2 separate regions of the Homo sapiens genome follow, and region 1 is linked to region 2. Evidence: fine-mapped expression QTL. A gene starts in region 2. The other region holds a variant in brackets. All regions are shown on one strand. Distances are from middle to middle.

Region 1 (4,268 bases), 160 kb after region 2:
TCCTATAATCTGTCAGAAGACAGAAAACAAAAAGAAGGCTGTGCAAGCCAGAAAAAGCAAATTATAACCAACACAGAGCCAACACTTTACTTCAGACAGAAGGAGCTTTTCTATGCATCTTTGGAAAGGAAGAGACAAAAGAAGCTTACCATTGCTCAAATAATCAAGGCAAACAATAAAACAATTTAACCAAACACCATCTGGGATTAGCATTCAATGCAATAGCCTCCCTTCTCACTTCTTATTCATAGCCTTAAGGAATACTAACATCACATAAAAAAGAGTTGAATGCCACAATATACAAAGAACTCTTATAACTAAATAAGAGGAAGACAAATAACCAAAGGGGAAAATATTCAAAGAATATGAGATAGTAAATCACAGAAGAAATACATAAAGTCAAAAATTATATATATATTCCATTTTGTTAGGTAGTGGTGGAAAGTGCCTTCTCCATACAGTCCTAAAGGCATTTTGTCTTGATAGTACTGCCAACTGCAAGCTTCCAGAGAAACTTGGGCTATTTTGAATGAAAAAAATAATGATAAAGATGTCAAGCATAAGTAATACATTCCTAAAAATATTTAGAAGTTTTATGAAATACCTAATCTAGGAAGGAAACTATTCAATATAATGGATACATATAAGCTACAAATTAAATCCAAGAGAACTAAAATATGAATATAAAATGAACCTTTGCCTATGAATGTAAAACAGTTGAAGCCAATCCCTAAGCCTAGAATGAACAAAGCTGATGATGAAAGCAAATAACAGGGAGTCTTACTACAACCACAGAAATAAAACGTCTCTAAGAAAATAAAATTACTCAACTGTCTTTGCTGTGAAAGCATGTCATTCAAGGACCCTTTTAGCAGTCACCAAATGCAAATGCAAAAGCAGATAATGCCTGAGTCCAGCAAAAGCAAGTACAGTCTTCCCATCAAAGAGGAAAAGAAACCTAAGCCTTTCACTTGTCCTTGATACAAAAAGGTAAATGGATTGTGAAAGAACTCAAATTCCAGAAAAAAAGATTCCAGTCCAACCTGCATAAAGCTAAAAAAACTTCATGTTACTTTGTTCTAAAATTAGCAACACACAGGTCCCTATACTAAAAACAATATATACGATCCCAGGTGAGGTGTCAGGGTAAAGTTCCCAGCACGTCAGCAGACTATCCCATAACCATTTCAGTTTTCCCTTTTTGGCTTTTAGACAACATCCCAATTTTCCTCTATTGTTAATGTCACTTAAAAGGCTGAGAAAAATTTAGTTCAACAGATTCAAATTTCAATGTAGTTCCTAAGTACATTACAGGTAATGATGCCACTGATTCTATATTTAGACTCTGGTATGGAACAAGGAGTGTTAGTTTTGTCTAAAATGGTACCATGTCACTCTTCAAAGCCTAACTGCAACAATCACCTAATCCTGCATTAAAATGTCTTTAAGGTGTTACCTATAGCAAGTTAAAATGTTTTTTCAGTGTCTTTTGTGTGTGAGTGTTTCTATTGATTGGCTGTGATGCTATAAATATAGACACAATAAGTCACTCCCATCAGGCCTTTAAACATTCAGCAATGCAAGTACCATAAGGTGGAATTCATTCCTCATCTGAACCAAAAAGCAAAAATGGTAAAACTTTTTTTTTTTTTTTGAGGCGAAGTCTCGCTCTGTCACCCAGGCTGGAGTGCAGTGGCAAGATCTCGGATAACTGCAACCTCTGCCTCCTGGGTTCAAGCAATTCTCGTGCCTTGGCCTCCCGAGTAGCGGGAATTACAGGCGCCTGCCACCACGCCCAGCTAATTTTTTAAAATATTTTTAGTAGAGATGGGTTTTCACCATGTTGGCCAGGCTGGTTTCAAACTCCTGACGACCTTAAATGATCCACCTGCCTCAGCCTCCAAAGTGCTGGGATTACAGGAGTGAGCCACTGCACCCAGTCTGGTAAAACTCTTTTTATTTTATTTT[T/A]TTTTTTTTGAGATGGACTCTCGCTCTGTTGCCAGGCTGGAGTGCAACAGTGCAATCTCGGCTCACTGCAACCTCCCCCACCTGGGTTCAAGCGATTCTCCTGCCTCAGTCTCCCAAGTAGCTGGGACTACAGGCACGCGCCACCACACCCAGCTAATTTTTATATTTTTAGTACAAACGGGGTTTCACCATATTGGCCAGGATGGTCTCGATCTCTTGACCTCGTGATCCACCCACCTCGGCCTCCCAAAGTGCGGGATTACAGGTGTAAGCCACTGCGCCTGGCCAAAACTCTAATAATATGAACATTCTAAAGTGATCTAATAGTACTTATAAAAATATATTGCCTCCTCAAAAGGAATTTAAGGCCTCTCAATAAAAAGCATGTTGCTTATTTTCACAACATCCCAATAAAGAACTATTATTTAGCATTTATATCACACTTTAACTTGCAAAAGTGTTTTACAATTATTTTCATTAGTAGTCATGCATCACAACCACCCAACAAGCCAAAATGGTCCTGTTATCCTCATTTGACAGCTGAGAAAACTGATGTACTTTAAGAACAAGGTCAAGTCAGTCTGCTTTTCTTATAGACCAAGGGCCTAACCCTTATAAAAAGTCTCATTCGCTCACCAGTTACCTGTATTGCTCATAAAAGTAGTTAAAGCAGGTTTTTGGAAATAGGAGTCCATATAAAATAATCGTACAGGGCCGGGTGAGAGGTGGCTCATGCCTGTAATACCAGCACTTTGGGAGGCTGAGGCAGGTGGATCACATGAGGTCAGGAGTTGGAGATCAGCCTGGCCAACATGGTGAAACCCCATCTCTACTAAAAATACAAAAATTAGCTGGGCGTGGTGGCGCATGCCTGTAATCCCAGCTACTCAGGAGGCTGAGGCAGGAGAATCGCTTCAACCTGGGGCTGGGCAGAGGTTGCAGTGAGCCGAGATTGCACCATTGCACTCCAGCCTGGGCGACAGAGCAAGAGTCCGTCTCAAAATAAATAAACAAATAAAATAAAATAATGGCACAAAAACACTGAAAGATACTAATTCAACAAAAATACATAGTCAGGCTGGGTGCAGTGGCTCACGCCTATAATCCCAGCAATGGTGCGATCTCGGCTCACTGCAACCTCCCCCACCTGGGTTCAAGCGATTCTCCTGCCTCAGTCTCCCAAGTAGCTGGGACTACGGGCACGCGCCACCACACCCAGCTAATTTGTATATTTTTAGTACAGACGGGGTTTCACCATACTGGCCAGGATGGTCTCGATCTCTTGACCTCGTGATCCACCCACCTCGGCCTCCCAAAGTGCGGGATTACAGGCATGAGCCACCACGCCCGGCCTAAAAGTATTTTTTAAAAAGGCCAGGCAGCACAGTGGCTCACGCCTGTAATCCCAGCACTTTGGGAGGCCGAAGGCAGGTGGATCACCTGAGGTCAGAAGTTCAAGACCAGCCTGGCCAACATGGTGAAACCCCGTCTCTACTAAAAATACAAAAATTAAGCTGGGCGCAGTGGCATAAGCCTGTAATCCCAGCACTTTTGGGAGACTGAAGTAGGAGAATCGCTTGAACCCGGGAGGCGGAGGTTGGAAAGAGCCGAGATTGCACCATTGCACTCCAGCCTGGGCAACAAGAGCGAAACTCCACCACAAAAAATAATAATAATAATACAAAATTAGCCGGGCATGGTGGCAGGCGCCTGTAATCCCAGCCACCTGGGAGACTGAGGCAGAGAGAACTGCTTAAAACCCAGGAGGTGGAGATTGCACTGAGCTGAGATCACGCCACTGCACTCCAGCCTGGGCGATAGAGCAAGACTCCATCTCAAAAAAAAAAAAAAAAAAAAAAAAAAAAAAATATATATATATATATATATATATATATATATACACACATATATATATATACACACACACATATATGAATATAGAATTAGCCAGGCGTGCTTCCATGCGCAGGTAGTCCCAGCTACTCAGGAGGCTGAGGCAGGAGAATCACTTGAACTCGGGGCAGAGGTTGCAGTGAGCCAAGATCACGCCACTGCACTCCAGCCTGGGCAAGAGACTGAGACTCCATCTTGGGGGGAAAAAAAAAACATATTCAACTGGAATACAAACAGGTAAGTACTTAGTTACAATGACACAGGAAGTTTTCAAGGAAACTGGGTGCCAAAACCTGTTACCAAACAAAAACAAAAAAAATGATCAAATGTTTCTTCATCTTATTTTTCCCCCTCAATCAACTACAATTAGACTTCTATTTCCACCACTCCAATGAACGGTTCTACTG
Region 2 (4,268 bases):
CCAGACAGGGTGATGGCCGGGCAGAGGTGCTCCTCACTTCCCAGACGGGGTGGCGGCCGGGCAGAGGCCCTCCTCATATCCCAGACGGGGCGGCCAGGCAGAGGCGCTCCTCACATCCCAGACGATGGGCGGCCAGGCAGAGACGCTCCTCACTTCCTAGACGGGGTGGCGGCCGGGCAGAGGCTGTACTCTTAGCACTTTGGGAGGCCAAGGCAGGCGGCTGGGAGGTGGAAGTTGTAGTGAGCCAAGATCACACCACTGCACTCCAGCCTGGGCAACACTGAGCACTGAGTGAGCAAGACTCCATCTGCAATCCCAGCACCTCGGGAGGCTGAGGCAGGCAGATCACTCGAGGTCAGGAGCTGGAGACCAGCCCAGCCAACACGGCGAAACCCCGTCTCCACCAAAAATACGAAAACCAGTCAGGCATGGCGGCGTGTGCCTGCAATCCCAGGCACTCGGCAGGCCGTGGCAGGAGAATCACGGGAGCCCCAGGCAGGGAGGTTGCAGCGAGCCGAGATCACGGCAGTACAGTCCAGCCTCGGCAACAGAGGGAGACCGTGGAAAGAGAGAAGAGACAAGAGAGGGAGACGGAGAGGGCTACCTGTAGTTCTTAAACAATTGTTGAGGGTCAGGACAAAAGCATTTGTATTTTTAACAAGTTTCTCCAGTTATTCAAATTAATCCCAGATAGAGAATCACAGTTCATTCTGGGCAATTTCATCTACAACCCTGACATCTTCAACCACAGTCTGTACAAGATGTTATATTTAATGTTGTATCTCAGGCTCAGCACAGATCCCTTTTCTGAGCTCCGGACTGAACCTGGTTCCCAAATCTGGCTGTCCATCAGAACCACCTGAAGAGCTTTTTAAACCTACAGATTGCTACTGCCAAGCCTCTGTCCACCTCCACTCTAATTCAGTAGATCCAAAGTAGGAAACCAAAACAAAGTAAAAAATAAGCCTGACAACATGGTAGGTGTTCACTGAATGGGTGCTAGAATTATTAAGACATCGCAGTGATGATAACTCATGTCCTTGCCTAGTCTGACTGATCAGATGGGTTTTGGGAATCATGAACCAGACTAGCCCACCTGACAGAACTCTTTCCTCCCTCAGCAAACAGCATCATCAGTCATTCAAGACAAAAATCTACCAGCTATCTTAGATGCCTCTCACATCTCACTAGCTGACCTTCATTCTTTTTTTTTAACTTTATCTTTTTTTTTCAGGCAGATAAGACTTTCTTTTTTTAGTCTGTTTTTATTATATTGTAATTTTCTTGACTGATTATCACCACCGAATCTCCTGTATGTAGTACAATTCTAGCCATGTAGTAGGAACTCATTAAGACCTATGCTGAATGAATCCACAAATAATTTATTACTAAACATTTTAATTTCAAACGCTAAAAAAAAAAAAAAAAAAAAGCAGTTTTCTCTGCAATTCCTGTCACTGCTCCAAGTTTCTTACAAGAAGGAGGTTAAGGTTTGGGTAGAAGGGGGCCAAAGATGGAAACTGAGGAGCAAGTGTAAGATGCAGAAGAGCTGGAAGACAAAGGGTTGTAGTCAACGAGTGAGCTCTTGGAGTTTAAAGTTTCACAGACAGTACTTACTGTAACTTTAAAATTTCAGACACAGCACTTACTGTAATTTTCTTGTCTCTAAAGCAGGCTTTGAACCTGGATAGATTTGGATAGAACCCCGACTTTGTCATTTGCTAACTGCAAGGCTTTGAATAAACGATTTAATTTCTCTGCGTCTGTTTCCTCATCTGTGAAATGAGGATAACAATACTGTCCACCTTACAACAATGTTAATAATCGGAAAAAGGACATAGGTAACGTGCCTGGCCTGTAGCTCACCAAATATTAGGTGGTGTTGCGATTAAGATGCCTTAGAACAATTCAGTTCTCCGACTCTCTAGACCTGAGGAACCTTCCCAGGGAACCCCTAACTTTCCCAGACCACACTGTCAGATATTCTATAGGCCCCGCCCCTCCAGAGCCTCCGAGTCCTCCCTAGCCCACCCGAGCCCGGTCCCCAGCATTACCTGACCCATAGCGCACGTCGTGTGAGTGCAGTCGGACGTTGTGGCGCGTATTGAGTAGCTTCACCACGGAGCCGCAAGTAACGACACCCAGGCTGGACGCTCCCACAGCGCTCCACAAACCCCCCAACAACAGCAGAGGTACTACAGCCATCCTAACTGTATCGCGGAGCCCCAAATCTTCGAAGAAAACTCGGCCCCTCCCCGGAACCGGAAGCTAATGGCGAAACCACGGAGAGAAGGAAGTGAAGAAGCCCGAGTCTGATCTTTATGGTTTATTTGACTAGAGCGGCCTGAGAAACCGGCTGAGCCTGGTTACTTACGATACTCTCGCTCTGTTCCAGGGGCTCAGTGACAGCTGCCTTCCTGAGCCGCTTCGGTTACCTTTCGCACCCACGAGACGAAAGCTTCCGAGAGCGGGAGAGAGAACAAGAAATGGCCCGCCCACTCCCGGTGACAGGGAGCCGGAAATGACGTAGCACGTTGACGCAGCAGCGGCGGCGGTGGCGGCGGAGGGGCCGTGCGGTGGGTCCGTACTATCTTTTCCCAGTCTCGGTTCGACGACTCCATTTTCCTCGGTGGGGGCTTAGCGCACTGGAGGAGCGGCGGGCTTCAGACAGGTAAAGTTCCGACTGGAGAGCGTGTTTCTCGCAGGAGTCAGGTGGGGAACCGGGCTCCTAGGGCCTGGTCACGTAAGGGAAGAGGCAGTGGGGAGCCGTATGCGGGAAGAAGGGGGAGCCTGGCCTTCCCTGCTCTATGGGGGGAAGGGGGAGGAAAGCGCTGTAGTTGCTCAGAGTCCGAAAGCTTTTCCCAGCCCAGTGACACCCGGAACCCGTGAATCGGGTGGCACGTTGAATCAACAGGCTTCCTGGCATCCCGTCCTTCTCTCCGCAGGTTTTTAAAACTGGGCCACGCAAAAGGATTGGGGATGGAAGGGACCTGGGGCTTCTGAGCCAGGATCAGGTGATCGAGTTGTTTGTTCTGGGGATATGAATCCTGTGGAGCTTTCAGCAGCTCGGCCATCAGGCTAGAGGGCGATGCCAAATTCCAGCTCTTTACATATTGCTGAATAATACAAATAGAACTTTTTGTAGATGGTTGCATCCTTCATCCCTTTCTAAAGATCGAAGGTCTTGTAGAAGTCCTAAAGCCCGTCCATTCTCTATAGATTCATTTCCTCAAACGTTTGCCAGAGGCCTATCATGAACATCAAAATTAGTTATTAAGTCAAAACTCCATCTTCTAGTTTCTACCTTTCTCCTCAGGCACTCCTTTGAACCAGCTGGAGAAGTTAATTTTCCTGGGTTGTTGCAAGAACTGATACTTATTTCAGAGGGCTAAGATCTCTGAAAATACTTCCGTGGAAATTCACTGTAATATCAAAAGTAACAAGGGTGTATGAAGCTACATCATTAATGAGCATTAGGGAGTGTAAACAATATTGAATTTGATTAATTTCTTCGGAAAAATGTCTGGTTCCACTGTTTATCTGGAAGTTACCAGTTTGTAAGTCTTCAGTGTTTTGATTACAGAAACATAACTGCTCTTCCATCAGCTGTGAATTTAGAGCCCTTTTTTACGAGTAATGTCCCTTTCACCAGTACAAGTACATTTTTATTCACTTGGCTTGTGTGGCTGCTAGATTGGATTAGCATAGCCTTGCAACTCTAGGAGGTTTTAACTTCATCAGGAGATTAATTACATCAGAAAGTGGTACCGTCTGGAGAGGCTTAGTCAAATTTTACAGTTCTTCCTCTGAAAGCCTACCTAGTGTGGTGGAAACATGATCTTTGTAGGCAAATACGTTTGCCCTGATTCTATATTCTTGACCTTAATAAATGGCACTACCATCAGTCCTGCCTGTAATCCTTGTCTTCCTTCCTGTCCACTATTTCCCAATAAAATCAGTCACCAAATCCTGTCTCTCCCTGAAACTGTTCCCATCAGCATACAAATTATGTTCTGGTATCCTTCACATCCCTCTCCAATTACCATGCCAATTTTTTAAATTTCCATTCATAGATTTCTACCTGTACCAACTCAGCTTTCTCAACTTTCATTCACTCTTCATTTTATACCAATCTGGCTTCTCTTCTGCCCACTCCATTTTTTTTTTTTTTTTTGTGGAGACAGGGTCTTGCTCTGTTGCCCAGGTTGGAGTGCAGTGGCCCCATCATAGCTCACTGCCACCTGGAACTCCTGAGCTCAAGCAGTCCT

The links. PIP is the estimated chance that this variant, and not a neighbour inherited with it, causes the effect.
Region 1: its variant is fine-mapped to the expression of SUPT6H in whole blood (TOPMed, PIP above 0.99). The same link has a PIP of 0.9 or more in blood mononuclear cells.

The regions. Positions count from the first base shown.
Region 1 is chr17:28,818,998-28,823,265 of GRCh38, forward strand. The region is part of intron 1 of FAM222B (family with sequence similarity 222 member B); the gene reads right to left. Among named protein-coding and RNA genes, the nearest start is that of FAM222B, 22 kb to the right of the region's middle. RefSeq lists enhancers at 2,940-3,441, 3,442-3,941. The variant T/A (reference allele first, on the strand shown) is at 1,969.
Region 2 is chr17:28,659,672-28,663,939 of GRCh38, forward strand. SUPT6H (SPT6 homolog, histone chaperone and transcription elongation factor) reads left to right here and starts at 2,534. Exons shown (of 37, transcript NM_003170.5): 1 at 2,534-2,671. SDF2 (stromal cell derived factor 2) reads right to left here and starts at 2,235. Exons shown (of 3, transcript NM_006923.4): 1 at 2,055-2,235. The coding sequence starts at 2,205. RefSeq lists enhancers at 1,922-3,121, 2,483-2,552, 2,650-3,324.